4 separate regions of the Homo sapiens genome follow, and all the other regions are linked to region 4. The links come from fine-mapping of genetic effects on gene expression. A gene starts in region 4. Each other region holds a variant in brackets. All regions are shown on one strand. Distances are from middle to middle. Region 1 holds the start of MIR2117HG (MIR2117 host gene). Region 2 overlaps HSD17B1-AS1 (HSD17B1 antisense RNA 1). Region 3 overlaps LOC102725238 (a long non-coding RNA gene). Region 4 holds the start of RETREG3 (reticulophagy regulator family member 3).

The links.
Region 1: its variant is fine-mapped to the expression of RETREG3 in monocytes (CEDAR, PIP 0.95).
Region 2: its variant is fine-mapped to the expression of RETREG3 in whole blood (TOPMed, PIP above 0.99).
Region 3: its variant is fine-mapped to the expression of RETREG3 in blood mononuclear cells (TOPMed, PIP above 0.99).

Annotation. Positions count from the first base shown.
Region 1 is chr17:43,443,141-43,451,243 of GRCh38, forward strand. It overlaps MIR2117HG (MIR2117 host gene), which reads left to right and starts at 1,567. Exons shown (of 2, transcript NR_146952.1): 1 at 1,567-1,768; 2 at 7,757-8,057. It overlaps MIR2117 (microRNA 2117), which reads left to right and starts at 1,666; the gene lies at 1,666-1,745. It also overlaps the pseudogene RNU6-406P. The variant A/G (reference allele first, on the strand shown) is at 3,246.
Region 2 is chr17:42,544,568-42,552,670 of GRCh38, forward strand. HSD17B1-AS1 (HSD17B1 antisense RNA 1) reads right to left here. Exons shown (of 1, transcript NR_144402.1): 1 at 7,869-8,103. It also overlaps the pseudogene HSD17B1P1. Among named protein-coding and RNA genes, the nearest start is that of HSD17B1, 4.3 kb to the right of the region's middle. RefSeq lists a silencer at 3,699-3,948, enhancers at 4,339-4,418, 4,449-4,508 and a cis regulatory region at 7,814-7,830. The variant T/C (reference allele first, on the strand shown) is at 4,491.
Region 3 is chr17:42,447,820-42,455,922 of GRCh38, forward strand. LOC102725238 (a long non-coding RNA gene) reads left to right here. Exons shown (of 4, transcript XR_007065758.1): 4 at 682-2,438. Among named protein-coding and RNA genes, the nearest start is that of ATP6V0A1, 7.0 kb to the right of the region's middle. The variant T/C (reference allele first, on the strand shown) is at 4,338.
Region 4 is chr17:42,604,610-42,612,695 of GRCh38, forward strand. It overlaps RETREG3 (reticulophagy regulator family member 3), which reads right to left and starts at 4,765. Exons shown (of 9, transcript NM_178126.4): 1 at 4,477-4,765. The coding sequence starts at 4,715. TUBG1 (tubulin gamma 1) reads left to right here and starts at 5,074. Exons shown (of 11, transcript NM_001070.5): 1 at 5,074-5,177; 2 at 5,499-5,611; 3 at 5,814-5,981; 4 at 7,466-7,534; 5 at 7,818-7,897. The coding sequence starts at 5,129. RefSeq lists an enhancer at 4,647-4,756.

The sequences.
Region 1 (8,103 bases), 840 kb after region 4:
TTGATACTTAAATTTTTTTTTTTCATTTTCTTTTTTTTTTAAGTTTCAAGAGGTTGATACTTTTGATTGTCACAATGATTGGCTTTTGATTGTCACAATGATTGGGAGCGTTATTACCACTCACATATAGTAAATGAAGGATGGGATAGTCCTACACAAAAAATTATCTAGCTCCAAATGTCCTCAGTGTCTCTGATGAGAAACACTGATCTAGTCCATAGTCAGGGCTGCCAGGTATGGGTGTGCAGGTTGCCCACTGTACAACTCTTAAGGGAACCATTCACCTGGTGGCTAAGTGTGTCAATTCTGAAACCATACTGCCTGAGTTCCAGTGCCAACTGGAACTGCCCCCCACCCCCTACTTCTTTTTTTTTTTTTGAGACCGAGTCTTTCTCCACCACCCAGGCTGCAGTCCAGTGGCACAGTCACAGCTCACTGCAGACTCTACCTCCCGGGCTCAAGTGATTCTCCTACCTCAGCCTCTTGAATAGCTGGGACCACAGGCACCACCACCACACCTGGTTACTTTTTAAATTTTTTGTAGAGATAAGGTCTCCCTATGTTGCCCAGGCTGGACTCAAAACTCTGAGGCTCAGGTGATCCTCCTGCCTCGGCCTCCCAAAGTGCTGGGATTACAGGTGTGAGCCACCGGACCTGGCCTGGAAGCTCTTGAACATATTGCTTATCTTCTGTGGACCTCAGTTTCCTCATTTATAAAATGGGAAGAGCAATAGTAATATAACTCATACTGATAACATAAGAATATGTTATCAATAATATATGTTCCTGCACATAGCAGACATTCAATTCATGTTCAATGATTATTATTCTCTGAGATCTGACTTCCCCATTGACTGGGGTGGGGCCCTGGTGTCTACTCCCTGATAAAGACCACGTATGCCTGGATTCCTGCTCTCCCTGAGGCTTAACTTTCCTGGTTCCACCTGTAATCTCATTGAGAACTCCCATTGTTGCCTAAACTTGCTTGAGATGGTTTTTGTAATCTACAACCAGAAGTCTTAATTACTAAGACAAGGTGAAAAGACTCACCTGTAGGAAACACAGTAGATAATACAAAAGGGCTTTCAAGTTAGTGTGAGACTGCTTGGCATAGAAAGACGATAAATGCCACAGACAAAACCTAATCGTAACTGAAATAAATAAATTCGAACAACAAATTGTTAAGTGAATGGAATGCAGCTAGCTAGGATCTCATGCTCTGTTCTAAGAAAACAGACAGGTCAAACAATCAGGACCAGTCCAGACATGTGTCTGGGAAGTTAAAGGAAAGAGACCCTGTCCCTCAAAACCTTCCTTACTAGTGACTCATGTCTTCGTTTACCAGGAGGTCTTCTTTGAAAATATGAATGTTTCTGGGAAGGGTAATCCAGAAACCTACTGAGGCTCACCCTACTAGGAATGTATTTACCATTTTTCTTTTCTTTCATGTCTGTTCATTGAGAACACAGAGAATGTATTTATTCAGTGACTTTCTCTCTCCTCCACTTCCCAACCCCAGCTACAAATGGGGACAGCAAGAGAGAGAAAACCTGGGGAGAACGGAAGAAACCATGCTTTGTAGAATGGATCCTGCTTCAGAATTGCTGATCTCATCAACCACATGTTTATAGAGAGAGCAGTGGCCCTTAAGGAACTGGAGAGAATGCTCTGATTTACTTCTGTCCGGCATGGTGAACAGCAGGATTGGCTGTAGCTGTTCTCTTTGCCAAGGACAGATCTGATCTGATTGCCTTGAGGTGAAAGTGAGGTAAGGTGGGGCGGGGATTAGCTTTTGGCTCCCAAGAATGGTTGTTCATCAACCTTTTGCTAAGCCCGTGGTTCTCAAATTTTGCTGCATGTTAGAATCACCTGGGAAGCTTTAAAAAAACATCTCAGTACCCAGGTTGTACCTCAGACCAATTAAATCTGAATGCCTGGGGGCGGTTGCCAGGCATCAGAAGTTTTCAAAGACCTCCCCCAACCAGGTGGTTCCTGGACATGTACCCACGTCCGGGAACCACTGTCCTCAGCATTTATTGTATGAGGCAACTTAGGTGACACACAACAGGTGAGAACCTGGCTCCTGCCTTTCGGACACAGGACTTAATTTTTTTTTTATTTTTTAAATTATGCAGTAAAATTTTTTCTGTTGGTGTACAGGTCTATGAATTTTTTTATACTGAGTTTTTCATACTGCCTGAGTACAATTTAATGGTATACCATAAAGTATACCATAATTTTATGGTATACCGTAACATTTTACATACCATAATTTTATTTTTATAAAGTATACCCACAATTTTATGGTATACCATAAAACTAGTATAGTATACCACAAAATTTACCCTTTTAAATTATACAATTCAATGCTCACTTCAGCAGCACATATACTAAAATTGGAATGATACAAAGAAAATTAGCATGACCCTTGCTCAAAGATGACACTGTAATTTGTGAAGTGTTCCATATTTAAAAAAAAATTTTTTTTAAAGTGTACAACTCAGCCATATGCAGTGGTTCCCACCTGTAATCCCAGGGTTTTGAGGCCAGGCACGGTGGCTCACGCCTATGATCTCAACACTTTGGGAGGCCGAGGTGGGTAGATCACCTGAGGTCAGGTGTTCAAGACCAGACTGTCCAATATGGTGAAACATCATCTCTACTAAAAATACAAAAACTAGCCGGGCATGGTGGTGTGTGCTTGTAATCCCAGCTACTCGGGAGCCTGAGGCGAGAGAATCGCTTGAACCCAGGAGGCGGAGGTTGCAGTGAGCCAAGATTGTGCCACTGCTCTCCAGCCTGGGTGACAGAGCAAGACTCTGTCTCAAAAAAAAAAAAAAAGGCTGGGTGTGGTGGCTCACACCTGTAATCCCCAGTACTTTGGGAGGCCGAGGCGGGCAGATCACCTGAGGTCAGGATTTCCAGACCAGCCTGACCAACATGGTGAAACCCCATCTCTACTAAAAATACAAAATTAGCCGGGCATGGTGGCGCATGCCTGTAATCCCAGCTGCTCAGGAGGCTGAGGCAGGATAATTGCTTGAACCCGGGAGGTGGAGGTTGCGGTGAGCCAAGATCTCGCCATTGCACTTCAGCCTAGGCAAGAAGAGTGAAGCTCTGTCTCAAAAAAAACAATCCCAGGGTTTTGGGATGCCTAGGCGGAGGCTCACTTGAGGCCAGGAGTTTGAGACCAGCCTGGGCAATGCAGCGAGACCCTGTCTCTACCAATAAATGAATGAATGAAT[A/G]AATAAATAAATAAATAAATAAATAAATAAATAAATAAATAAAATTAGCTGGGGATGGTGGCAAGTGCCTTTAATCCTAGCTGCTCAGGAGGCTGAGACAGGAGGATTGCTTGAGCCCAAGAGTTTGGGGTTACAGTGAGCTATGATCACGTCACTACACTCTGGCTAGGGTGACAGAGAAAGACCTTGTCTCTAAAAAAGAGAGGAAAACAAGTTACCAAATTATACAATTATCTGTTCAGACCTAGATTTACAAGAAAAAAAATGTAAAATTTCGTGTTTTTAGTATATTTGTAAAGTTGTGCCACCATCACCAGTAATTCCAGAACATTTTTATCTCGTCTCCCCAAAATACCCCGAATCCACAGTAGCTTCTCCCCATTTCCCCTTCCGCCCACCCCCTGGCAAATACGAGCCATAGAGACTCTCTCCCTCTATGGCTTTGCCTACTCTTGATATGTCACATAAATGAAATCACACAATCTGTGGCCTTTTATGTCAAGCTTATTTCACTTAGCATGCTGTTTTCAGGGTTTATCTGTGTTGTAGCATGTATTAGTACTACATTCCTTTTTATTGATGAATAATATTCCATTGTATGGATATACCACATTTCATTTATCTATTCATCAGCTGATGGACATTTGGGTTGTTTGCACTTTTTGGCTATTGTGAATAATGCGGCTATAAACATTCTTGTACAAGTTTTTGTGTGAATGTATATTTTCATTTTCTTGGTCTTGGATACTTTTTTTTTTTTCTGAGACGGAGTCTTGCTCTGTCGCCTAGGCTGGAGTACAGTGGTGCAATCTCGGCTCACTGCAACCTCTGCCTGCTGAGTTCAAGCAATTCTCCTGCCTCAGCCCCCCAAGTAGCTGGGATTACAGATGTGTACCACCACACCCGGCTACTTTTTATATTTTTATTAGAGACAGGGTTTTGCCATATTGGCCAGACTGATCTTGAACTCCTGACCTCAAGTGATCTGCCTGCCTTGGCCTCCCAAAGTGCTGGGATTACAGGCATGAGCCACCGAAACCGACCCATAAATCTTTTTATATAGGTGTGATTTCAGCTTAACATTAGTAAAAAAAAATTTCATAAATTTCTTTTCATTTGAGCTATTTTGCAATAGAATGAATGACTGGCTGCTTCACTGGGACTATTAATTCTACAAATATTTATTGAATGCCTACTATATGCCAAGCATTGTTTTTCTCCCATTTGGTGATTATTTATACTTTTATTTTTAGTTTACATGTAATGATTGTACATATTTATGGGATTCAGATTGATACTTCTTTTTTGTTTGTTTGTTTGAGACAGTCTCGCCCTGCCTCCCAGGCTGGAGTGCAGTGGTACAATTATGGCTCCCTGCAGCCTTGACCTCCCAGGCTCAAGTGATCCTCCCACCTCAACCCCCTGAGTAGTTGGGACCACAGATGTGTGCCACCATGCCCAACTAATTAAAAAAAAATTTGGTAGAGACAAGGTCTCACTATGTTGCCCAGGCTGGTCTCCAACTCCCGGGGTCAAGCAATCCTCCTGCCTTGGCCTCCCAAAGTGTTGGGATTTCAGGTTTGAGTGACTGTACATGATGATTATTTCTTTTTTAAAAAATTATTTTTATTTTTTTGTAGAGATGAGGTCTTGCATATTGCCCAGGCTGGGCGAACTCCTGGCCTCAAGCAATCTTCTTGTCTCAGTAATTGTATTGAAAGTGACCCATTACAGGCATGAGCCACCTCGCCTGGCTGTTGAACATCTTTTCATGTGCCTATCTGCCATCTTAATATTCTCTTTGGTGAAGTATTTGTTTACATCTTTTGCTCATTTTTAAAGTCAGTAATCTGTTTTCTTATTTAGGTATGAGAGTTCATTATAAATTCTGGTTTTTGTTTGTTTGTTTTTGTTTTGTTTTGTTTTTGAGACAGAGTTCTGCTCTTGTTGCCCAGGCTGGAGTACAATGGTGTAATCTTGGCTCACTGCAATCTCCGCCTCCCAGATTCAAGTGATTCTCCTGCCTCAGCCTCTTGAGTAGCTGGGATTACAGGCACCCGCCACCACGCCCAGTTAATTTTTATATTTTTAGTAGAGATGGAGTTTTGCCATGTTGGCCAGGCTGGTCTCAAACTCCTGACCTCAGGTGATCCACTCTCCTCGACCTCTCAAAGTGCTGGGATTACAGGCATGAGCCACCGCGCCTGGCCCATTATAAATTCTGGATACAAATCCTGTGTTGCACATATGATTCGTAAATATTTTCTCTTAGTCTGTGTTTTGGACACAATACTTTTTGTACATGTGTCTGATGAGAGAAAGGTATGGAATTAACATTTACTGAGCACCTACTATGTGCTGGACGTTGTAGTGGATTGCTGGAGGAATAGGGATATAAGTAAGATAGAGTCCCTATCCTCAAGAGAGGTTTCCTGGAGGAGGGGTGAAGTTTGGACACTACTGTCTATACTACAGGCAGAAATTTTTGTAGAGACGGGGTCTCACTATGTTGTCCAGGCTGGTCTTGAGCTCTTGGGCTCAGGCGATCCTCTGAGCCACAATAAGGTAGAAGAGGGAAATGTAGAGCCAAGTGGTTACAAGTAAGGACTTTGGAGTCAGTTTGTCTGGTCCCAGCTGCAGCACTTACCACCTGTATGTCCTTGGGCAAGTTACTAAATCTCTCAGTACCTCGGTTTCTTCATTAGCAAAATTAGGGCAGTAATAATGCCCATGGAAGGGCTGGGGGTACGAAATGAGAGGGTGTAGGTGGCAAAGGGAAACTCTCCACTCTTATCTACTGTATTATCATTTATTTGGGTAGCAACGTTGTTCTGTGGCCATCAGGGGAAGCTACCCTCCACCTCCTGGAGGAGGTGTCATTGGAGCTGAACCTCAAGGCCTGGAAAGACTTCCAGAAGCTGAGATGGGTGCATTGAAGTGGTGGAAGCTGCTCTTTAGAACCTATATTTTGCCCCAAACCATATATTCCTCCCCAAAGAGAGAAGTTTTCCTCTTTCTTGTTCCATCCCCTCCTCTCTTCATCCTGCGCTGTCCTCTCATCAAGTCTTTTTCTTTCTTTTCCCTGTCTCTCCTTCTCACCTGCCAGAGGCTTCTATGGGCCCCTCTTGTGTCCTTGGCCTTATGAAGTCACCGACACTTGGGTTATGGGCTGCTGCTCTGAGGCTGCAGGGTCACCTTCGGCCCCTCGATGGGGACTTTACACTCTACTCCAAACAGAAGCAGGATGCTGTCTTGGGGATTCTTTCCCCCTGCAGTCTGGTGCCCTGGTGCCAGTGCTCAGGGAATGAATTTAGTGCTGGGTCACTTCCAGTACAAATTATTGAGCAATTTTCTGTGTGGACATCAGGCCTATGTTGAGACAACAGCTCTGCCAGTTCGAGCTTGTTCCGTTAATAATTTACTGGCGGAGAAATGGGAGTTAAATGAGCCAGGAGGCATATTTTGCATGAACTTTGAGGGTACCTCTGACAGCAGTTCATGTAATTTGTCCGGGAAGATACTAAAGCTGTCTGAAATCTAATGTCCTGCCTGCCACACTGACCCTTTGGATCCATTTTATTAACACAGTTGGCTTTGATTTATGTTTATTTTATTGCTTTGGTTTCTCTTCTGAACTCATAACCAGAGTGGTGGTGCATGTGGAAAATGGCTCTGTGAAGAATTAGGTTCCCAGGTGTGCTTGTGGAAGGAAACCTAGCAGCAGCTGTGGGTTTTTCTCGGCTTTGCAGGACTGGGATGTCTTGTGGCAAAACTGCCCCTTTCTGAGTGACTGGCCACTGTGTGTGTGCAAGGCCAGCACCATTGATGTGTGACCTGTGCAGTTAAGCAGGGCCCCATGTTTAGAAGGACCCCCTGCTTGATTTAATGCTCTGCTGTCACCATTTAAACGTCTTAATAATTTAGAAACAAGGAGTCATCCTTTTTTTTTTTTGAGGCAGAGTTTTGCTCTTGTCGCCCAGGCTGGAGCGCAATGGCGCGATCTCAGCTCACTGCAACCTCTGCCTCCTGGGTTCAAGCGATTCTCCAGCCTCAGCTTCCCAAGTAGCTGGGATTACAGGCACCTGCCACCACGCCTGGCTAATTTTTGTATTTTTAGTAGAGACGGGGTTTCACCATGTTGGCTGGGCTGGTCTCAAACTCCTGACCTCAAGTGATCCACCCACCTCGGCCTCTCAAAGTGCTGGGATTACAGGCATGAGCCACCATGCCTGGCTGGATTCATACATTTTATACTGGCCCCTGAAAATTCTGTAACCAGCCCTGAGTGTGTGCCATGGTCCACATTCCCAATTCTTTATGTTGAACCTAGGTGATTCGCCAAGTTTATTCTGTTCTTTCTGGGGCCATCCCAAAATCCTTAAGGAGGCTATGGCAACTCTGTCCCAGTGTCTTACAGGCCCACCAGCCAAGATATCTGAAAACACATACAGATAAAAAGTTTGCTTAAAAAAAATCAGTTACGGCCTCTTCCCGGCCACCATCCCATCTAGGAAGTGAGGAGCGTCTCTGCCCGGCCACCCATCGTCTGAGATGTGGGGAGCGCCTCTGCCCCGCCGCCCCGTCTGGGATGTGAGGAGCGCTTCGGCCCGGCCGCGACCCCGTCTGGGAGGTGAGGAGCGTCTCTGCCCGGCCGCCCCGTCTGAGAAGTGAGGAGACCCTCCACCTGGCAACTGCCCCATCTGAGAACGGCATTCCAGATTTTTCTGCAGTCCAGAATAGAGCACCACCACCATAGCATTTCAAGCTCATTCTAAGTTCATCTTATCAATGACAAGAGGAGACACGTTGTTCATTCATGTATGAGGTAGTACTTTCCAATTGAAGACATTGCTTTGAA
Region 2 (8,103 bases), 60 kb before region 4:
CCTGTTTTTGTTTGTTTGTTTGTTTGTGACGGAGCCTTGGTCTGTTGCCCAGGCTTGAGTACAATGGCACAGTCTCGGCTCACTGCAACCTCCGCCTCCTGGGTTCAAGCAATTCTTGTGCCTCAGCCTCCCCGGTAGCTGGGACTATAGGCATGCACCACCACGCCAGGCTAATTTTTTTTTTTCCAAGATGGAGTCTTGCTCTGTCGCCCAGGTTGGAGTTTAGTGGCACCATATTGGTTTACTGCAACCTCTGCCTCCCGGGTTCAAGCAATTCTCCTGCCTCAGTCTACCAGGGAGTTAGGACTACGGGCCTGTGCCATCACGCCCGGCTAATTTTTGTATTTTTCATAGAGATAAGGTTTCACCATGTTGGCCAGGCTGGTCTTTAACTCCTGAACTCAAGTGATCCACCTGCCTCGGCCTTCCAAAGTGCTGGGATTACAGGAGTGAGCCACCGTGCCCGGCCACGTCTCTCTTTTTAACACTAATGTTACCCTGACCTTTGAACGTAGAATGCCCTTCTGTTGCAGGAAAACCTCTTTTCAAACCATGTTTGTCCTTTGCTGGCATGCCACAGCAACAGTCACCAACACAGAAGACTTCTGTGACCAAATATTTGGAGGATTTTCCCCACACACACCAAGCAGCAGACATCAGCTGGGTGTCCTCCAATTCAGTTCCAATGTAATCAACCAGAGACAGCATCAGATCCCACAGGGTTAGGGTGCAGATCCATGAGACCACCCCCTCCTTCCCAACGGTTACAAGTCCTGATCCCTGGAACTTCTGACTAACTGGCTTCAAGTTGGAGTTCCCATGACCCCCTTCCCCTCTTTGGAGTCAACTCATTTGCGACAGTGACCCACGAAACACAGGGAAACCCTTATTATGTTTATTGCTTTATTACAGAGGAAAAAAATTTTTTTCTTTCTTTTTTGAGACAGGGTCTCACTCTGTCATCCAGAATGACTGCAGTGGCAGGATCTGGCTCCGTCACCCAGGCTGGAGTGCAGTGGCATGATCTCGGCTCACTACAGCCTCCATCCCCCCAAACCCCACGCCTCAGCGCCCCACCCCGCAAGTGGCTGGGACTCTAAGCATACACCACCACACCCAGCTAATTTTTTTGTAGTTTTTGCAAAGACGGGGTCTCATTCTGTTGCCCTGGCTGGTCTTGAACTCCTGAGCTCCAGCAATCCCCTTGCCTTGGCCTCCCAAAGTGCTGGGATTACAGGCATCAGCCACCGTGCCCAACCTCAAAGGATATTTTAAAGGATAGAAATAAACAGCCATATGAAGAGATACAGACAGGGCGGTCTGGAAGGGCCCAGAGCAGGAGCTTCTATCTCCATAGAGTTGGGGTTACATCACCCTCCAGGCACATGGATGAGTTCTTCACCTTCTGTCAGCCTCCACACGTTCAGCTCTCAGAAGCTTCCCGAACCCTGTCCTTTGGGCCTTTTATGGAGAACTCCATTGGCTGTCCATGACTGAAGCATGGACAACTGTGATAATGTGATTGGGCAAAAAGGGTCTGATCTAAGCCCAGCAAGGCCAGTCCAGATTCTTTGGGCCTTTGTGCAGCATTCCTTTCTCCAGGGTATGGGGCAAGGACCCACTCTGGAATGAGGATCCTACAACCCACAATCAGATTAGAATCCTGCCTTGGGCAGCTGAAAAGAGGACAGGAGAAGGTCAAAGAGAGGAAAGGCTGTTTTTTGAGGCCTGAGGCGCCCCAACATGACAACGAAAGACTGTAACCATGGTCATGTGAGTTATGAGCTAGGAACCCTGGACGAAACCAACACATATACAATCATCTCCCACCTCCCAACACCTTTACTTTCACAGCCTCTGCAGCAAACTGCGGTCACTATAATCGCTCCTGTGGCACAGAGGCATACCCAGGGGAATCTGCCCAGGGGGCCACTCTGTGCCCACGTGGGAACCCACATCTGCTTGTAAAGCCTCCCCTCCCTCTGACCAGAAACGAGGACAGTTTGTTGTTCCAAGCAGTGGGCTCATGTCTGTTTTGGCTCAGAACAGGGTGGGGAGAGCGGGCCAGGGACCCGCAGGAGGGCTTATCCTTGAGATTGCGTGGGAGACACAACAAGGGGTGGGGGCCCGCAGGCGGGGCGGGGCGAAGCAGGTGATATCCAGCCCAGAGCCCCAGCCTCTCCCCACAGTCTCACCATGGCCTGCACCGTGGTGCTCATCACCGGCTGTTCCTCAGGTATTGGCCTGCACTTGGCAATACATCTGGCTTTGGACCCATCCCAGAGCTTCAAAGGTATAGATAGGTAGGGACAGGGAGGGAGAGAAGGGAAAAGCCCTTGGAGGCCAGAAGAGAAGTCAGATCTTCCTCCTCTCCCAAAACCTCCAGTGTATGCCACGTTGAGGGACCTGAAAACACAGGGCCGGCTGTGGGAGGCGGCCCGGGCCCTGGCATGCCCTCAGGGATCCCTGGAGAGGTTGCAGCTGGATGTAAGGAACTCAAGCTCCCTGGCCGCTGCCCGGGAACGCGTGACCGAGGGCCGTGTGGATGTGCTGGGTGAGCCTCCTGGAAGCATATGGGCTCCTAGGAGCCTTCTCCGCCCTGCGTTGAAACCAACATGTCCCCAGGCCCCTGGAGCATGAGGGGACAGGCCGTGCTGAGGGTGATGCTGAGGCGGGCTGGTTGGGCCTCTGTCCCCGCAGTGTGTGACACAGGCCTGGGCCTGCTGGGGCCGCTGGGGGAGGACGCTGTGGCCTCTGTACTGGATGTGAATGTAGTAGGTACTGTGCGGGTGCTGCAGGACTTCCTGCCAGACATGAAGCGGCCGGGTTCGGGACGCGTGTTGGTGACTGGGAGCATGGGAGGATTGATGGGTGAGTGGCAGGGACCGGGCCCGGAGCTCCAGATTCTTTGTGTGCAGAGCTGAGCCTTGAAGGCAGGCTCCTTAGGGGGTGGGGTGCAATCAGCTTGGAGGGGCACTGCCTGCCGGGGGATGACCCCCTGGCCGCTGCGCCTCAGGAACCTCATCTTCCCACCCAAGGGCTGCCTTTCAATGACGTTTATTGCGCCAGCAAGTTCGCGCTCGAAGGCTTATGCGAGAGTCTGGCGGTTCTGCTGCTGCCCTTTGGGGTCCAGTGAGTCAACACCCCCGTCTCCTCAACCCTCTTAACTCTGACCTAGAGATGCCGAGCACCCTGTCCTGCGGAAGCCGCTCTGGTCTCTGCCCGGCTTACATTTGCTGCGTGCCAGGCACTTAGGCTGGAGCATTGGCACGCATTGTGCCACTTGCTGACCTGGCTGCTGAAGTGTTGGTATTGTTATGGGGAAGCTCCAGCCAAGAGAGGTTAGGTGACTGGCCCAAGGTCATGCAGCGGCCGGGGATCCCGCCAGGTTCGAATTCTGACACCAGGGCTACCTGGCAGCCTCAGATGGGTTTGGGAGGGCTGTCGAGCAATAACCCGCTATTCAAATGTTCTGGTTATCCCCAGCGCTCTTTCCACCTTCGGGACGCAGCGGTGCTGTTCTGGGTCGTGGCCAGGGCCGGGGTCGGGGCCGGTGCTGGGGCAGGAGATGGGACTTGGCGCCTGGGTCGCCTCCGTCCCTGCCCACTTGCGGCTCTCGGGCCAGCAGCGTGAGCCTGATCGAGTGCGGCCCTGTGGACACCGCCTTCATGCAGAAGGTGTTGGGCGGTCCCGACCAGGTGATGGACCGCACGAACACCCGGACCTTCCGCCTCTTGCACTAATACCTCCACCACAGCAAGGAGATCTACCGCGAGGAGGCGCAGCACCCTGAGGAGGTGGTGAAGGTGAGCGGGGGGCGGGACTCCGGGAGCGGGGGCGGTGCGTCGTCCTGCGCGCAGCCCGGGCCAGAGCTCCTCTCCCGCCGCCGCAGGTCTTCCTCACCGCTATGCGCGCCCCGAAGCCGACCCTGCGCTACTTCACAACCAGGCGCTTCCTGCACCAGCTGCTGATGCGCCTGGACGACCCCTTTGGCTTCGACTACGCCGCCGCCATGCACCGGGACGTGTTCGCCGACGATCCCGCAGAGGCCGAGGCTGGGGCCGGGGCTGGGGCCGAGGCCGGGGGCGGGGCCGGTGGGATGGGAGACCCTGAGCTCAGCGATCCTCTGGCCGCCCCGCAAGAAAGGCTCCGTCAGCCACTGTCTCCCGCGCCCTCCTTTGTCTCCTGGGCCTGTGCGGTCCCTGGGGATGGGACGGCGGTGACGGCTGTGGATGGCTAATTAAGACAGATCACGTTAGCCCGTTATATCTGCGCGGCTAGGCGCGATGGCTGTCGCCTATAATCCCAGAGCTTTGGAAGGCCGAGGCAGGAGGATCGCTCCAGGCCAGGAGTTCCAGACCAGCCTGAGCAACATAGTGAGACACCCCATCTCTAAAATAAAAAAATTAGCACAGTGGCACCATTCCTTGAGCTCAGGAGTTGGAGGCTGCAGTGGGCATGATCGAGCTACTGCTCTCCAGCTTGGGCGA[T/C]AGAGTGAGACACTGTCAATTAATTAATCTAATCAACCAACCAACCCAACAACCCAGAAACCAAGGTCCAGAAAGAAGCCAGCCCAGGATCATGCCTCAAGTCCACAGTAAAGCCCAGACACAGTCACTGGATACCCAAGGGGCATCTGCAGGACGAGTTAGGTGGGACTTGGGTTGGGGTAGAGTCAGGTTGTGACCTGCACTCCATTAGCCATGAGACCTCAGGCAAGTTCCTTGCTTTCTCTGAGTGCTTTCCTTTCCTTTCCCTTTTCTTTTCTTTTTTGTTTTTCTTTTGTTTTGAGACGGAGTTTCACTCTTGTTGCCCAGCCTGGAGTGCAATAGCGCGGTCTCAGTTCACCACAACCTCTGCCTCCCGGGTTCAAGTGTAGCTAGGATTGCAGGCATGTGCCACCACGCCCAGCTAATTTTGTATTTTTAGTAGAGACGAGGTTTCTCCATGTTGGTCAGACTGGTCTTGGACTCCCGACCTCAGGTGATCCGCCCGCCCTGGCCTCTCAGAGTGCTGGGATTACAGGCATGACCCACCCCATCCGGCCCTCTGAGTCTTTCTTATCTGTAAAATGGGTATAATAATACCTATCTAATCGGTTTTAGTAATGGTGGAGATAATGCCTGAAAGTGCTAGTATAGAGGTTTAATACCCAGCAAGGACTGTTATTAGAATGAATAGTAATATGACTACTGTCACATTTTGCAAATGTGTAAAGAAGAAAGAGGGCTAAGTGAATCAAAGGGAGACAGCCCCACTCACCCTGTTCTGCCCCAGAGGACTGAGCGATCCCCACCATCTGGGAAGCTGCCTCACCAGGAGGTCCAGCTGGGGCTACAGGACTGGCTACTTTGCTACAATGGCCCATCTTTCCTGAGCCCAGTGGAGGGTCCCAGGGGGGCAGAAGTCATTGATAGGGGCCAGTAGGGTTGTAGAGCCACTGTCTGAACTTCTGTGGAGGTCTGGTGCAGGGGAGGTGTGAACAGATAGGAGGCTAGGTGAGGATGCAGCAGAGGAAGGGGGCAGGAGTGCCCCAGGAGGGGGCGGTACCGAGGCAGGGATTCAGCTGGGTCTGAGAGGGAGGGAAGGCTGAGGGGGATGGCCCTTTGGAGTGGGCAGGGACATGACCACAGAAAGCCTGGGAAGTGGAAACAGACAGGAGCCTGCTGGAGCTCTTGGAGCTTTGTGTGGGGCACTAGGGGAAGGAGGCAGGCACTCCACCCTGACCTGCCCCTACCTCTGGATGAGGGTCTTCTCTGCCTGTTGGATGATGTGCTGCCCCTGCTCTTGGAGGAAGAGGCCTCCCAGCCACCCCCTCCTGCCAGTCGCCTTGCCCTGCTGACCCAGACAGATCTGCTATCCCTACAGCATCCAGGAAGGCCACAGGGAGGGGGCCCAGGTGGCATGGGTTTCTGAGGCCTGGGATCTGCTCTCAGTCCCGCTCTCGCCAACCCCCTTTGCCCCTCTGTGACAGTGTGTGTACATATGCGTGCATGTGTGTACCTGTGTGGTGTGGCTCACAAGGTCACCCCTGGGGGTGGGATAATAAGAGGTAAAGTGTGACCCCCTCTCTTCCGTACATTCATTTTTTCAAGCTTGTGAATATTCACATTGTTAATATAATCTTCTGCAGTCCCATGACTTCGAATAGCACTTAGATGCCGATGACCCCCCCACCAAAGAAACCCCACTGTCTCCCACAGACTCCAGGTCTGTATCTCCAACTGCCTACTCAATACAACACGTCCACCTGATACAATGAACTTAATGTGTCTAAACCCCAATTCCACATTTCCAGTCCTCCTACCGGCTCCTCCCCCAGTCTTCTCTACTTTACTATATGACAACTCCATTTTTCCCAATACTGGTTTTAAAAACCCTGGAGTAGTCCTTGACTCCAGTCTCTCTCACCTTTCAACCAATTCAGCAGCAAATACTGACAGCTCTACCTTTGCTCATCAAAGCATATCCCCAAATCACCCTATTCCAGACTGCACACTGTCATCTCTCCCTTCAATTACAGCAGTAGCCTCCTAACTAGTTTTCTTGATTCCACTCCTGCCCATCAGCAGTGAAATTACCCCAGAGCAGTTAAAATGATCTTTTAGGATGGGCACAGTGGCTCACGCCTGTAATACCAGCACTTTGGGAGGTGGAGGCTGGCTGATCCCCTTAGGTTGGGAGTTCAAGACCATCCTCACCAACAGGGAGAAACCCCATCTCTACTAAAAATACAAAAATTAGCCGGATGTGGTGGGACGTGTCTGTAATCCCAACTACTTGGGAGGCTGAGACAGGAGAACTGCTTGAACCCGGGAGGTGGAGGTTGCAGTGAGCCAGAATCGTGCCACAGCACTCCAGCCTGGGCAAGAAGCGCGAAACTCCGTCTCAAAATAAAATAATCTTCTAAAAATGACAGGGCCAGGTGGGGTGGCACTTTTTTATAATCCGAGCACTTTGGGAGGCTGAGGTGGGCAGATCGCTTGACATCAGGGGTTTGAGACCAGCCTGGCCAACATGGTGAAACTCCGTCTCTACTAAAAATACTAAAAATTAGCTGGGCGTGGTGGCGGGTGCCTGTAATCCCAGCTACTCGGGAGGCTGATGCAGGAGAATCGCCTGAACCAGGCAGATGCAGGATGCAGTGAGCCAAGATTAAGACACTGCACTCCAACCTAAGCAATACTTTGTCTCAAAAATAAAAAAAAGCCTGGGAAACAAAGTGAGACCCCGTCTCTACAAAAAAGTCAAAAAATTAGCTGGGTATGGTGGCAGTGATGGCACACACCTGTAGTCCCGGCTACTTGGGAAGCTTTTTAATATTTTTTGCAGAGACCGGGTCTCACTCTGTTACCTGGCCTGGTCTTGAACTCCTGGGCTCCAACAATCCCCTTTCCTGGGCCTCCCAAAGTGCTGGGATTACAGGCATGAGCCACCGTGCCCAGCCTCAAAGCATATTTTAAAGGATAGAAATAAACAGCCATATGAAGAGATACAGACAGGGCGGTCTGGAAGGGTCCAGAGCAGGAGCTTCTATCTCCATAGAGTTGGGGTTACGTCACCCTCTGGGCACATTCTGTCAGCCTCCACACGTTCAGCCCTCAGAAGCTCCCGAACCCTGTCCTTTGGGCCTTTTATGGAGAACTCCATTGGCTGTCCATGACTGAAGCATGGACAACTGTGATAATGTGATTGGGCAAAAAGGGTCTGATCTAAGCCCAGCAAGGCCAGTCCAGATTCTTTGGGCCTTTGTGCAGCATTCCTTTCTCCAGGGTATGGGGCAAGGACCCACTCTGGAATGAGGATCCTACAACCCACAATCAGATTAGAGTCCTGCCTTGGGCAGCTGAAAAGAGGACAGGAGAAGGTCAGAGAGACGAAAGGCTGTTTTTTGAGGCCTGAGGCACCCCAACATGACAACGTAAGACTGTAACCATGGTCATGTGAGTTATGAGCTAGGAACCCTGGACGAAACCAGCACATATACAATCATCTCCCACCTCCCAACGCCTTTACTTTCACAGCCTCTGCAGCAAACTGCGGTCACTATAATCGCTCCTGTGGCACAGAGGCATACCCAGGGGAATCTGCCCAGGGGGCCAC
Region 3 (8,103 bases), 160 kb before region 4:
AGTAGCTGAGATTACAGGCATGTGCCACCACACCCAGATAATTTTCTTTTTTTTTTTTTTAGTAGAGACGGGGGTTTCAACATGTTGGCCAAGCTGGTCTCAAACTCCTGACCTCAAGTGATCCTCCCACCTCGGCCTCCCAAAGTGCTGAGATTACAGGTGTGAGCCACCAAGCCCGGCTGGTGTCCTTTTTTTCTTCTTTTCTTTTTTTTTTTTTGAGACGGAGTTTCACTCTTGTTGCCCAGGCTGGAGTGCAATGGCGTAATCTCGGCTCACAGCAACCTCTGTGTCCCGGGTTCAAGCAATTCTCCTGCCTCACCTTCCCGAGTAGCTGGGATTACAGGTGTGTGCCACCACTCCTGGCTAATTTTTTTGTGTTTTTAGTGGAGACAGAGTTTTGCCATGTTGGTCAGGCTGGTCTCAAACTCCTGACCTCAAATGATCTGCCCATCGTGGCTTCCCAAAGTGCTGGGATTACAGGAGTGAGCCACCGTGCCCGGCCCTCATTTAATCTTAATTACATCTTTAAAGGCCCTGTCTCCAATGTACAGTCACAATAGAGGTTAGGGATTCAACATAGGAATTTGGGAAGACACAATTCAGTCTATAACACTTCTCCTCCCTCTCCCTCTCCCTCTCCCTCTACCCACGGTCTCACTCTCCCTCTCCCTCTCCCCACAGTCTCCCTCTCCCTCTCTTTCCACGGTCTCCCTCTGAGGCCGAGCCGAAGCTGGACTGTACTGCTGCCATCTCGGCTCACTGCAACCTCCCTGCCTGATTCTCCTGCCTCAGCCTGCCGAGTGCCTGGGATTGCAGGCGCGCGCCGCCACGCCTGACAGGTTTTCGTATTTTTTTGGTGGAGACGGGGTTTCGCTGTGTTGGCTGGGCTGGTCTCCAGCTCCTAACCGAGAGTGATCCGCCAGCCTCGGCCTCCCGAGGAGCCGGGATTGCAGACGGAGTCTCGTTCACTCAGTGCTCAATGGTGCCCTGGCTGGAGTGCAGTGGCGTGATCTCGGCTCGCTACAACCTCCACCTCCCAGCCGCCTGCCTTGGCCTCCCAAAGTGCCGAGATTGCAGCCTCTGCCCGGCCGCCAACCCGTCTGGGAAGTGAGGAGCGTCTCTGCCTGGCTGCCCATTGTCTGGGATGTGAGGAGCCCCTCTGCCTGGCTGCCCAGTCTGGAAAGTGAGGAGCTTCTCTGCCCGGCCGCCATCCCATCTAGGAAGTGAGGAGCACCTCTTCCTGGCCGCCATCCCATCTAGGAAGTGAGGAGCGTCTCTGCCCGGCTGCCCATCGTCTGAGATGTGGGGAGCACCTCTGCCCCGCCGCCCCGTCTGGGATGTGAGGAGCGCCTCTGCCCGGCCGTGACCCCGTCTGGGAGGTGAGGAGCGTCTCTGCCCAGCCGCCCCGTCTGAGAAGTGAGGAGCCCCTCCGCCCGGCAGCCGCCCCCTCTGAGAAGTGAGGAGCCCCCTCCACCCGGCAGCCACCCCGTCTGGGAAGTGAGGAGCGTCTCCGCCCGGCAGCCATCCCGTCTGGGAGGGAGGTGGGGGGTCAGCCCCCGCCCGGCCAGCCACCCCGTCCGGGAGGGAGGTGGGGGGTCAGACCCCACCCGGCCAGCCGCCCCATCCGGGAGGTGGGGGGCACCTCTGCCCAGCCGCCCCTACTGGGAAGTGAGGAGTCCCTCTGCCCGGCCACCACCCCGTCTGGGAGGTGTACCCAACAGCTCATTGAGAACGGGCCATGATGACAATGGCGGTTTTGTGGAATAGAAAAGGGGGAAAGGTGGGGAAAAGATTGAGAAATCGGATGGTTGCTGTGTCTGTGTAGAAAAAAGTAGACATGGGAGACTTTTCATTTTGTTCTGTACTAAGAAAAATTCTTCTGCCTTGGGATCCTGTTGATCTATGACCTTACCCCCAACCCTGTGCTCTCTGAAACATGTGCTGTGTCCACTCAGGGTTAAATGGATTAAGGGCGGTGCAAGATGTTTTTGTTAAACAGATGCTTGAAGGCAGCATGCTCATTAAGAGTCATCACCACTCCCTAATCTCAAGTACCCAGGGACACAAACACTGCGGAAGGCCGCAGGGTCCTCTGCCTAGGAAAACCAGAGACCTTTGTTCACTTGTTTATCTGCTGACCTTCCCTCCACTATTGTCCTATGACCCTGCCAAATCCCCCTCTGCAAGAAACACCCAAGAATGATCAATAAAAAAAAAACAAAACAACAACAACAAAAAAAACACTTCTCCTCTTGAGTTTTCTCAATTATGTTTGATGGTTGAAGCAGACTGTGTAACATTGTCCAATGTGGTTTGCAAAGTATGTTGAGGAAATATTTAAGACAATTATGTTGTAAATGGGAAAGTAAAAAGACTAAAATGGAGGTAAGAGTTTTATACTTCACTCAAGCTGATAAAAATATTGACATCAGTTGGCCAGGCACAGTGGCTCACGCCTGTAATCCCAGCACTTTGGGAGGCCGAGGCAGGTGGATCACCTGAGTTCAGGAGTTCAAGACCAGCCTGGTCAATATGGTGAAACCCTGTCTCTACTAAAAATACAAAAGTTAGCCGGGCATGGTGGCACATGCCTGCAATCCCAGCTACTCAGGAGACTGAGGCAGGAGAATCGCTTGAATCTGGGAAGCAGAGGTTGCAGTGAGCCAAGATTGCGCCACTGCACTCCAGTCTGGGCGATAGAGAGAGACTCCGTCTTAAAAAAAAAAAAAAAAAAGAAAGAAAAAAGAAAAAATATTGACATCAGTTGACTGTGATAATTTATATATGTATAATATGAAACCCATTACAACCACTTAAAAAATCTACACAAAGAGATACACTCGGGCCAGGCGCGGTGGCTCACGCCTGTAATCCCAGCACTTTGGGAGGCCGAGGCGGGCGGATCATGAGGTCAGGAGATTGAGACCATCCTGGCTAACACGGTGAAACCTCGTCTCTACTAAAAATACAAAAAAATTAGCCGGGCGTGGTGGCGGGCACCTGTAGTCCCAGCTACTCCGGAGGCTGAGGCAGGAGAATGGCGTGAACCTGGGAGGCGGAGCTTGCAGTGAGCTGAGATCGCGCCACTGCACTCCAGCCTGGGCGACAGAGCGAGACTCCGTCTCAAAAAAAAAAAAAAAAAAAGAGATGCACTCAAAAACACTATAGGAAAATTAAAATGGGATTTAAAAAAAAAAGGTACAAGTAGCCCACAGTAAGCCAGAAAAAATCAAACACAGAGACAACAAGAGGAACAAGCAGAAAACAAAAAATAAAACAGCAGACTTAAACCTTTTATTTATTTACATACTTATTTTTTTAGCAATGGAGTCTTGCTGCAAGAGAGCAGTGGCATGATCGTAGCTCACTACAGCTTCGGACTCCTGGGCTCAAGTAATCCTCCCACCTCAACTTCCCAAGTAGTTGGGACTACAGGTGCACATGCCACCACTCCTGGCTAGTTAAAAAAAATTTTTTTTTTTTGTAGAGATGAGGTCTTGCTATGTTGCTCAGACTGGTCTCAAACTCTTGGGCTCAAGCGATCCTTCTGCCTCAGCCTCTCAAAGTGCTGGGGTTACAGGCATGAGCTACCACACCTCGCCTTTAAGCCTTAAGGTATCAATAATTACATTAAATGTAAACAAAGTGCACCAATTAAAAAGCAGACTTTGGCCGGGCACGGTGGCTCATACCTGTAATCCCAGCACTATGGGAGGCCAAGGCAGGTGGATTACTTGAGGTCAAGAGTTTGAGACCAGCCTGGCCAACATGGTGAAACCCCATCTCTACTAAAAATACAAAAAAATTAGCTGGGTGTGGTGGTGGGCGACTGTAATCCCAGCTACTCAGGAGGCTGAGGCAGGAGAATCCCTTGAACCCAGGAGGCAGGGGTTGCGGTGTGCTGGGATGGTGCCACCACACTCCAACCTGGGTGACAGAACGAGACTCAATCTCAAAAAATACAAAAATAGGCCAAGGACAGTGGCTCACACCTGTAATCCCAGCACTTTGGGAGGCCTAGGTGGGTGGATCACCTGAGATCGGGAGTTCGAGACCAGCCTGACCAACATGGTGAAACCCTGTCTCTACTAAAAATATAAAATTAGCTGGGCGTGGTGGCTCATGCCTGTAATCCAAGCTACTTGGGGACTGAGGCAGGAGAATCCCTTGAACCCGGGAGGCAGAGGTTGCGGTGAGCCGAGATTGCACCATTGCACTCCAGCCTGGGCAACAAGAGCGAAACTCTGTCTCAAAAAAATTAATTAATTAATTAATTAAAGTTAAAAAAGCAGACATTGACAATGGATTAAAAATATGACACAACAATATGTTTTCTT[T/C]TTTCTTTTTCTTTTTCTATTTTTTTTTTTGAGATGGAGCCTTGCTGTGTTGCCCAGGCTGGAGTGCAGTGGCACTATCTCGGCTCATTGCAACCTCCGCCTCCCAGGTTCAAGGGATCCTCCTGCCTCAGCCCCCCAGCAGCTGAGATTACAGGCATGCATTACCATGCCTGGCTAATTTTTGTATTTTTAGTAGAGATGGGATTTCGCCATGTTGGCTAGGCTGGTCTCAACTCCTGACCTCAGGTGATCCACCCGCCTCGGCCTCCCAAAGTGCTGAGATTACAGGCATGAGCCACCGTGCCCGGACAACAATATGCTGTTTTCAAGAATCTCATTTCAGGCCAGGTCCAGCGGATCACATCTGTAATCTCAGCACTTCAAGGGACTGAGTAGGGAGGCTCATTTGAGTCCAGGTGTTTGAGTGCAGCCTGTGCAAGATAGTGAGACATTGTCTCCACAAAGAATCAAAAGATTAGTCTGGTTTGGTGGTGTGTGACTGTGGTCCCAGCTACTCAGGAGGCTGAGGCGGGAGGACTGCTTCAGCCTGGAAGTTGAAGGCTGCAGGGAGTCATGATTGCACCATTGCACTCCAGCCTGGGCAACATAGCAAGAGAGTCTTTTTAGAAAAAAAGAAATGGGTCGGGCGCTGTGGCTCATGCCTGTAATCCCAGCACTTTGGGAGGCAGAGGCAGGCAAATCGCCTGAGGTCAGGAGTTTGAGACTAGCCTGACCAACACGGTGAAACCCTGTCTCTACTAAAAATACAAAGATTAGCCAGGTGTAGTGGTGTGCACCTGTAATCCCAGCTACTCGGGAGGTGGAGGTTATGGTGAGCCAAGATCGCAGCCCTGCACTCCAGCCTGGGTGACAGAGCAAGACCCCATATCTTAAAAGAAGAAAAGAAAATTTTACTAAGTATATACTGAATACCAGGTACCAAAATAGGCAGTGAGAATACAATAAGTGAGATACGCAGGGTCCCTTCTCTTGGAGCTTTATGTTCTACTGAAAGTTAGATCTCTCCTTTGAACATTGAATCAACTAGATCTTTTCTATTAGAATTTTCCGATGTATTCATTCCACGTCTCCCTTTCTTTCTCGAAGTCACTAGAAACCCAATATAGAAACATTTGCCAGATTTTCCACTTCAGAAATCTCGAACTAGTTTCTCACTTTCCTGGACAAATATTTCAGGTCTAGTGTCACAGATGTTTTTCAGCCTTGTGTCACTCAGCCCTTTCCCTCATTCCCATCCCAAGATTTCTCATGTTTTCCAAATTTCATTTCCTTAAAAAGCCTCTGCATAGCATTCTTAACTTCCACAAGTTAAGAGGCTCACTGCCTCATGTGTCTGTCACAGGAGTCATGAGGGTTGCATAAAATAAAATGTTACATGCCTTAGGCTCATTTATATCTCCTTGTCCATGCAATCATTAGCAGAGCTTCCGAGGAAGTCTCAAAATCTATTAGGTTTTTACTTTTTACCAAAAGGCCTTTAATCTTAAACACTCACAGGTTTGAAAGTAAAAGCAGAAGTATTTTAAGGAACTCACAGTGAAGTTGTAAAAGGGACTACTTCTATGGAAACAAACTGCTAATCAACAGGTCACCTAAAGGTTGTAGCAGTAGAAATGTCTCAATGAACGCTCATATCAGATTCTTGGTAGAACAGTTTTAAGAATCAGAATTCATTTTCACATAAAAAGAAAACTTTTAAAAATGGAATTCTGGTTGCAAAAAGGAAAACATAGGGCAGGTGTGGTGGCTTACGCCTGTAATCTCAGGACTTTGGGAGGCAGAGGAGGGCAAATCACTTGAGGTCAGGTGTTAGAGACCAGCCTGGCCAACATGGTGAAACCCTGTCTCTACTAAAAATACAAAAAAATTATCCGGGCGTGGTGGCAGGCCCTGTAATCCCAGCTACTCGGGAGGCTGAGGCAGGATAAATGCCTGAACCCAGGAGGCAGAGGTTGTAGTGAGACGAGACTGCGCCACGGCACTCCAGTCTGGATGACAGAGTGAGACTCCGTCTCAAAAAAAAAAAAAAAAAGGAAGAAAAGAAAAAAAAATTCATGTATAACGGGGAACCTGTGAAGGTGGCCTCATTTGGAAATAGGATATTTGCAGATGTAATCAGGTTAAGATGGGATCATACTGGATTAAGTGGTGCCCTAATCTAATGGCTGGTGCCCCTATAAGAAGAGGAGAATTTGCCTACAGACAGAGACACATAGAGAAGGCCGGGTGCAGTGGCTCACTCCTGTAATCCCAGCACTTTGGGAGGCTGAGGCGGGTGGATCACTTGAGGCCAGGAGTTCGAGACTAGCCTGAGCAGTATGGCGAACCCCCGTCTCTACTGAAAATACAAAAATTAGCTGGGCGTGGCGGTGCACACCCGTAATCCCAGCTACTCAGGAGGCTGAGGCAGGAGAATTGCTTGAACCTGGGAGGTGGAGGTTGCAGTGAGCTGAGATTGCGCCACTGCACTCGTCTGGGCGACAGAGCAAGACTCTATCTCAAATAAAAAAAAAAAGACATATAGAAGAAAGAATACCATGTGACGATGGAGGCAACAATTGAAATGATGCATCTATAAGCCAAGGAACACCAAGGATTTCTGGCAACCACCAGAAGCCAGGAAGAGGGAAGAAAGGATTCTTTCCCAGAGCCTTTGGAGATACCATGCTCTGCAGACACCTTAATTTCAGACTTCTAGCCTCCGCTGTGAGAGAATAAATTTCGGTGTTTTTGTTTTTTTGAGACAGGGCCTCACTGTGTCACCCAGGCTGAAATGCAGTGGCTCAATCACGGCTCCCTGCAGCAGCATCAACCTCCCTGGCTCAGGCTCAAGCCATCCTCCCACTTCAGCCTCCTGAGTAGCTGGGTCTACAGGCACGTGCCACCATGCCCAGCTAATTTTTTTTTTTTTTTTTTTTTACAGACGTGGGTCTTGCTGTGTTGTCCAGGCTGGTCTCAAACTCCTGGGCTCAAGCCATCCTTCTGCCTTGGCCTCCCAAAGTGCTGGGATAACAGGAGTGAGCCACCGTGCATGGCCGATTTCTGTTGTTTTTTGTTTTTTTGAGACACAGTTTTGCTTTTTCATCCAAGCTGGAGTGAGGTGGCGCAAACTTGGCTCACTGTAGCCTCTGCCCCCTGGGTTCAAGTGATTCTCCTGCCTCAGCCTCCCAAGTAGCTGAGACTACAGGCGCCCACCACCATGTCTTGCTAATTTTTGTATTTTTAGTAGAGATGGGGTTTCCCCATGTTGGCCAGGCTAGTCTCGAACTCCTGACCTCAGGTGACAGGCTGGCCTCGGTCTCCCAAAGTGCTAGGATTACAGGCGTGAGCCACCTCGGCTGACCTGATTTCTGTTGTTTTAAATGCTACCCAGGTTGTGGTTATTTGTATGGCAGCCTTAGGGAAACGAATACTGGAAGCCTGTGGAGAAGACACTGGAGCAGATACGTATTTCAAAACACCGGGCTTAACGTTAAAACTCTCCTCTAGGCCCCATCTAGGAATCTAAGTGGGATAAGCTAAGATGAGCTAGCTGATTCTTCACTGGTGGAAATTTGGACAATTGACACGCATTCATTCAAACTAAAAATTAAAGATAAAAAACCACATTTAATAATTTCACTACAGTGACAATTCTTGTAACATTTTGAGACTCTATCAGTTAGATCCCTACCTCTGTTCTATTCTTTTTGTGGTAGTGAAGAACTAATCTTTATAACTGTTTTTTTTTTTTTCAGACTCAGTT
Region 4 (8,086 bases):
CAGTGAGCTATGATTGTGCCACTGCACTCCAGCCTGGGCAACAGAGGGAGACCCTGTCCAGCCCAACAACCCCCGATTCCCCAGCAAAAAAAAAAAAAAAAAAAAAAAACTGAAAGAGCTCAGCAGTTATGTAGGCCTCCTTGAACTATCTCTTCATGTTAGGTGGGAGAGGGAGCTTGGAGTTCACACATTTCCAGTGTTCATTTACCCTCCTCTGATCTCAGAGTACAAGTCAAACCAAAAAGTTACCCAAACCTGTTCTTTTCTGATCCTGTCAGGATACATGCTTGTTGACTCTCACATTCTTCCCCCAAATCACTCATTCACAGATGAGGTTGAGACTAATGAAAACACAAGCTATTGGAAGGAACGGCCTGACATTTCTATTATTATGCTAGAGACAATAACAGATCAGTGACCAGAAGTAATCTAGGCTGGAAGACCTCTGATATGGCCACCATAAATTCTCTGGTACCTGAAAAAAAAAAAAGTATGAAAACCTTGGAATACTATGGTGACAAGGTATCTACATCTATCTCCATCTTTTTTTTTTTTTTTTAAGATGTAAGAGGGCATATTCACAGTTACGGCAAAATATGACTGAGGATACAAAACACTGAAAATTAAGAGCTACCTACCTGAATTCTGATGGGTTTTTTTTTGTACTCCTATCTCCTAATACCTCAAAATGCATAAAAATCTCAGTTAATGATATGTCATTTTTGTCCCATTATTCAATACAATAAAAGAGAAACTAAATATTTCAGATTTGATTTTTCTGACTTGAGCTAATGATCCTCCTCCCTTTCTTAAACATTTAAAATGTTTGTTAACTGAACAGTCAGTCACTCTTCCACATTTCTAAGCGAAATGTCAACACTCATACTCAATATGACACTACTAGAATGTGAAGCCCAAATTTCATTTTAAATCTCTAATTACCTACCAAGGAAGCTCATTTCCCCAAACAATTCTGTGAACTCCAATGCCAGACTATCCAAGTTTCTGGGGACTTAACAGTATCTGTGCCTTTCACATGTAGGAGTCCTCTCCAGAAATGGCATACCCAACTGTTCTTTTAGTCTCAAGAGTCACATTGTCGGCCAGGGACAGTGGCTCACACCTGTAATCCCAGCACTTTGGGAGACCGAGGTGGGTGGATCACCTGAGGTCAGGAGTTCAAGACCAGCCTGGCCAACATGGTGAAACTCTGCCCTACAAAAATACAAAAATTAGCCAGACGTGATGGTGGGTGCCTGTAATCCCAGCTACTCGGGAGGCTGGGGTGGGAGAATCGCTTGAACTTAGGAGGTGGAAGTTGCAGTGAGCCAAGATCACGCCATTGCACCCCAGCCTGGGTGACAGAGCGAGACTCCATCTCAAAAAAAAAAAAAAAAAAAAAAAGTCACATCCTCATTTTGTTGTCTCTCTCCTGCACCTTCTTAAAATGTGATGGGACTGTAACAAGAGTAACTGTGTTCTGGATACACAACAGACAAGCTACTAGGAAATGCCAAAGATAAAGACCAATCACAGCAATGCTTTAAGAGACCCAGAGTACAAAAGGGGTTCTAAGTGAGCCTCTAAACATAGCATGTTAATAAGCTTAAGTAAACACTGGTAGAGGCCAGCAAATTAAAGCTAGCTGTAACATCTAAAGATATGTCCCAGTCACAGCAGCTCTTTATGTGCAGACCTCAACCTCACATTCTGCTTCAGAAACCTCTCTCAGACAAGCGGCAGAAGAAAGGTCCCCTCCTCGCAGATCACGAGGTCAGGAGATTGAGACCATCCTGGCTAACACGGTGAAATCCCGTCTCTACTAAAAAAAAATACAAAAAATTAGCCGGGCGTGGTGGCGCGTGCCTGCAATCCTAGCTACTCGGGAGACTGAGTCAGGAGAATGGCGTGAACCCGGGAGGCAGAGCTTGCAGTGGGCCGAGATGGCGCCACTGCACTCCAGCCTGGGCGACAGAGCGAGACTCCATCTCAAAAAACAAAAATTAATTAAAAAAAAAAGGTCCCCTCCTCAAAAAGAACAGCATACATGCTACTAATTCATTTGCATTCATAAATCTTTGGTTTAAAAATCCATTTAAGGCCCGGTACAGTGCAGTGGCTCACACCTGTAATCCCAGCACATCGGGAGGCTGAGACAGGTGGATTGCTTTGAGGTCAGGAGTTTGAGACGAGCCTGGGCAACCTGGCAAAACTGTCTCTACAAAAAAATACAAAAATTAGCCAGGCATTGGTGGCGCATGCCTGTAATCCCAGCTGCTCGGGAGGCTGAGGCAGGAGAATCGCTTGAACCTGGGAGGAGGAGGTTGTAGTGAGCTGAGATCGTGCCATTGCACTCCAGCCTGGGCAACAAGAGCCAAACTGTCTCAAAACAAAAATAAGTAAACCCTGATAAAGTGTTTTTTTCCATCAGGCAGTCATACTTTGATACAAATTGGTTTAATGAGGCCCAGCCTTCTTGCTAGAGATACCAAAACCACTGTGGGAAATGTTTTGACTGGATAAAACACTCTTCAGTGAGGTGCTATAGTGAAGATTTCTACAGAGAGCAATGGGAATCAGTACCTAGGGGTCAAGGAAGAAGCACTTGGCTGGGCACGGTGGCTCATGCCTATAATCCCAGCACTCTGGGAGCCCAAGGCAGGAGGATCACCAGAGCCTAGGAGTTCGAGACCAGCCTGGGCAATATAGTGAGACCCTGTCTCCACAAAAAATTTAAAAAATTAGCCAAGCATGATGATGTGCACCTCTGGTCCCAGCTATTGTGGAGGCTGAGGTGGGAAGATTGCTTGAGCCCAGGAAGTGGAAGTTGCAATGAGCCGAGATCATACCACTGCACTCCAGCCTGGGTGATAGAGCAAGACCTTGTCTCAAAAAAAAAAAAAAAAAAAAAAAGGCCAGGCGCAGTGGCTCACGCCTGTAATCCCAGCACTTTGGGAGGCCGAGGCAGGCAGATCACCTGACCTCGGGAGTTCGAGACCAGCCTGACCAACATGGAGAAACCCCATCTCTACTAAAAAAATACAAAATTAGCCGGTTGTGGTGGTTCATGCCTGTAATCCCAGCTACTTGGGGGGCTGAGGCAGGAGAAATGCTTGAATCTGGGAGGCGGAGGTTGCAGTGAGCCGAGATCACGCCATTGCACTCCAGCCTGGGCAATAAGAGTGAAACTCTGTCTTAAAAAAAAAAAAAAGGGAAAAAGCACTACCAAAAATAAATGAAGAACGTGGTAGGAAAAGTTTACCATCGAGTTTGCTAAAGGCTCTGGAAGCCACAAATGCCAGAGACTACTGTGACACCTTTAACTGGGTCTCTTTCAAACTGGGAGAGGATTAGCTTAATAGCTGAACACTGTTTTCGGGTCAATGAACTTGGAATTATTTGTTCTGCTTCAGCTCACTGAAAATCTTTCAGATAAAGGATAATAAATGTTTTGATTTTAAAACAAATTTTAAGGGGAAAGCTATTTTTAGCAAAAACACAATTAAAAAACACACATATTTTGTTGTTTCAGGCTTATCCAGAATAGTCTTAATCCATTCAGCAGCAGAAAGCCCCCTATAAGTCAGTTCCCTTGGAACCTCCTCCATTACAAATAAATCCAAAATTATGGTTGGTAGATCCTATGAAGTCCTAGGTCCACTTCAGGTGATGACAACTGAGAGAAGCAGCAGTTCCATTTTCACAGAGCATGACACACACAAATAAAGCATATTTACAGTGCTACTTTTCCAGCTCAGGAAAACTCACACACAGTATTAGACATCAATTTCCTTGCCTATAAACCATGGCTAAGGATGCCTCTCTAATTCCTTGGAACAGGGAGGAGTTACAATCACAGGTGGCTTTGACACGCGTGTAATCTCCGTCATCATTTCCTAACTGTTCTTTAAAAGCTTGTAATTTTCTTTCAATTTTCAGCTTTGGGGGCTCACACTGACGCTTAGACTTCATAAACTTCCTTCCTAGATATATAACATGCTAATTCATGCGAATCGCTCAAGCTTGTTTTATAATCACACCTATGGATACCTTTGCAAGACTTCACGCCTCTACTCCAACAATAAACTACTAAAACCTCTGGAAACAATCTAGAACTTGCACTTGAGCAGACAAGAGAAAGGAAGTGATGGCTTTAAAGGGACGCAGCTTTGTCGGGCTCAAAAGAGGAGCCCTCGCTCACTCTTGAGCGGCTCAAGATGTTACCAGAAGCTCCCGCCAGATGTGCGGGGCGGGGGTGCGGGCACAGGTAAGGCAGAGAAGATGGGTGGACGGCCCTGGGAAGAACTAGGGTGCCGAAGCCTGCAGGCGGGATGGAGTGGAAGGAGGTGAGGCAAAATTAGGCAAGTACAGGAAGGAGCCAGTGCAGCGAAGAAAACAGGGCAGGCGAGAAGTAGAGCCCTAGAGGAACCAACGAATTCGGGACTCGGAGGGTTTCCGAGGGTCCAGTTCTCTCACCAGAAAGCCGCGTTCAGCCCCAGGCACCACAGAGCGCTCCTAGCTGGCCGCTCCCACACCAGGGCTGCCTGCACCCGACTCAGCAGAGGCTCGTAAGGCCCCAGCACCTCCACCAGGGCCCGCTGCGCCGCCTCAACCTGCTGGTCCCGCTCCCAGGAGCCTGACACATCTCGGCGGCCCCTGAAAGTCGACCCCGAAGCCGGGCCTGGGGTCGTGGGAACCCCTTCGGCCTCAGCCATCTCCCCGCGGCAGCCACAACATCCGGGGCCGTGGCCCGACAAGTCACAATAACAGCAACTGCGCAGATGCGCGATTCGGCGGGGGAGGTGGCTTCGCACCACAGCGCGCTTGCGCGCAGGCCCAAGCAGGCGCCCACCCAGAGGGGAGGGAGGACGCCGTACCCCGCCCTCACTGAGGCGCGGAGCCGGATCCGGAGGCGCCGAGCCGCATCCGGAGCCGCGCACGCGCAATCTGCATGAACGAAGGCCAGTGCTTAAAGACGTGCCATTCATTGCCAGAACTCGATTCTCATTGGAGCGGAGGAAGTTCGTGGGTGGAGCTGGTTGTTTGGCGCCTGCGTCTTGCGGCGAGCGGGCTGGCGTGCGGCGCCGTTGCGGGCGGGAGCGGCTGCAACGCCGGTGCCTGAGGAGCGATGCCGAGGGAAATCATCACCCTACAGTTGGGCCAGTGCGGCAATCAGAGTGAGCGAAACTCCGGCCCCTCAGCTAGCCAGGTTCCTTAGGGTCAATGGGATCTCGCTGTGGGATCCTGGACTCCATCTGTCCTTGCCAGAATCGTAGTTCTCTGAAAGGCGAGACATCCCTGACCCAGTGTCCACTTGCCCAACCCCGAGGGGCCCTCCCCTGCCCAGTCCCTGGCGTACAGTCCTTTCCTCAGACACGGGAGAGTCCTGCGGCTTGACTTCTTATCCCTGGACGCAGGCGCCCAGTCCCCCGGCTCCTGATTGGAACCTGCCCGGACCTAGATATCTTCTTTCTCCCCTGCCCGCCCCTTCCCCCCAGTTGGGTTCGAGTTCTGGAAACAGCTGTGCGCCGAGCATGGTATCAGCCCCGAGGGCATCGTGGAGGAGTTCGCCACCGAGGGCACTGACCGCAAGGACGTCTTTTTCTACCAGGTGCCCCCAGCGACTTGGCCGGGGGCGGCAGTTGCCCAAGGGGGCGGAAGGGAAGGGAGTGGCCTGGTACTGGGAACCCCGCTGGGCAGTAGGGCCAGGCGGCTGGCTTGAGGAGGGAGGGCCGGAGGGAGCCAGAGTTGGGAGGACTTCGGACTTGGGCCGCCCTAGCTGATTGGGCCCCCTCCTGGACTCCCCTTGACAGGCAGACGATGAGCACTACATCCCCCGGGCCGTGCTGCTGGACTTGGAACCCCGGGTGATCCACTCCATCCTCAACTCCCCCTATGCCAAGCTCTACAACCCAGAGAACATCTACCTGTCGGAACATGGAGGAGGAGCTGGCAACAACTGGGCCAGCGGATTCTCCCAGGTCGTTTCCTATTCCCTGGCAGGGCCCACAACTCGCTGGGTAGGGACAGGCTCTATGACGTCCCGAAGAGAGGGAAAACCGGATCAGGGATGTATGAATGCTGGAGGGAGAGACCTGGCTGCAGGGAGTGGACTATGTAATATTGTCAAGCGCCTACACTAGCTAATGCAGTGTGCCAGGTCATTCTAAGTGCTTTACATATATTAATTTTTCTAAATCTCCCAACAACCCTAGAAGTAAGTACTACAGGTCCACAGTCCCTTATCTGCCTTTCCAGGATCCAGAAAGCCATGAAACCAAAGGACATTTCATAACTAGTTTATCAGCAAAAACAAATTTCAATGAAGACAGGCTGTTTTATAGTTTCTTTTTTTTAATTTTTATTTATTTATTTTTTTTGAGACGGAGTCTCACTCTGTCGCCCAGGCTGGAGTGCAGTGGCACGCTCTCAGCTCACTGCAACCTCTGCTGCCCGGGTTCAAGCGATTCTCCTGCCTCAGCCTCCCGAGTAGCTGGGATTACAGGTGCTTGCCATCACGCCTGGCTAATTTTTGTATTTTTAGTAGAGACGGGGTTTTACTGTGTTAGCCAGGGTGGTCTTGATCTCCTGACCTCGTGATCCACCTGCCTCGGCCTCCCAAAGTGCTGGGATTGCAGGCGTGAACCGCCATGCCCGGCCCTATAGTTTCTATCCAACTTACTGTCATTAGTGATGCCTTTTATTACAGAAATACTAATATATTTGATTAACGTGCTTCTGATTAAATAAAAATTCCCACTGGAATTTTATTTAATATATAGTATATATACCATAATACCTTTCTAAAATCTGAAATATTTTGAATTCCAAAACATAACTGGCCCCAACACTGTTAGATAAGGGTATATGGACCTGTATTATTACCTTCATTGTACAGATGAGGAAACTGAGGCATAGAGCAATTAAATAAGCTGCCCAGAGCTACATAGAAGTAGAGTTAATGGGCCAGGCGTGGTGGCTCACGCCTGTAATCCTAGCACTTTGGGAGGCCAAGGCAGGCAGATCACCTGAGGTCAGGAGTTCAAGACCAGCCTAGCCAACATGGTGAAACTCTGATTCTACTAAAAATACAAAAAATAGCTGGGCATGGTGGCATGCGCCTATAATCCCAGCTACTGGGGAGGCTGAGGCAGGAGAATCGCTTGAACCCAGGAGACGGAGGTTGCCATGAGCCAAGATCGCGCCACTGCACTCCAGCCTGGGAGAAAGAGAGAGACTCCATCGCAAAAAAAAATAGAGCTAATGTATGAACCCAGGTAGTCTGGGTGTAGAGTGCTTTCTTGTAACCACTGCACCGTACTGCCTCTCAATGTAGATAAAAGCAGGTAGCTATGCTCCATAAAAGGACTTCTGGGTGTTATAAGGAGAATTGAGGGTGGCTTTTCTGAGGTCAGAGACCTCCCATGGTTCTGTCCCACTCTGACCCTCCCCTATGTCTGTACAGGGAGAAAAGATCCATGAGGACATTTTTGACATCATAGACCGGGAGGCAGATGGTAGTGACAGTCTAGAGGTAAGTGTCCCAGGAATGCTGGTAGGAGCCGACATGGGCAAGGCTTGGCAGCACCCTCTAGAAGCGACCTGTTAGGAACAAGACCCACTCATGTACCCTTTGCACTGGACAGAAGCTATCAGGCCTTGCCAGAAACAAGGCAGTTGCCTAAGCTGTATAAGTGAGGGGACTGGATGGGAAGCAAGGGCTCGGGAAAATGGGAGTCCTAAAAAACTATGAGATGGGTCTAGTTTGACATCCTGCCACTAGATACCTGTACACTGACTGCCCCTTCCCCATGCAGGGCTTTGTGCTGTGTCACTCCATTGCTGGGGGGACAGGCTCTGGACTGGGTTCCTACCTCTTAGAACGGCTGAATGACAGGTAAGTTTGTGTTTGGGGATTAGGAAAGGTCTCCAACTTGGCTTCCTAAATGACTAGGGGACCCAGCAGATATAACTCCATATTTGCTGGAACAGGAAAGAGTTCTTATATTCCCTCCTATAGAGAGGAAAATGAAGTTACAATGACTGAGAACCCCATCACACTCCCAGTAGTGGGAACTGGAGCCTA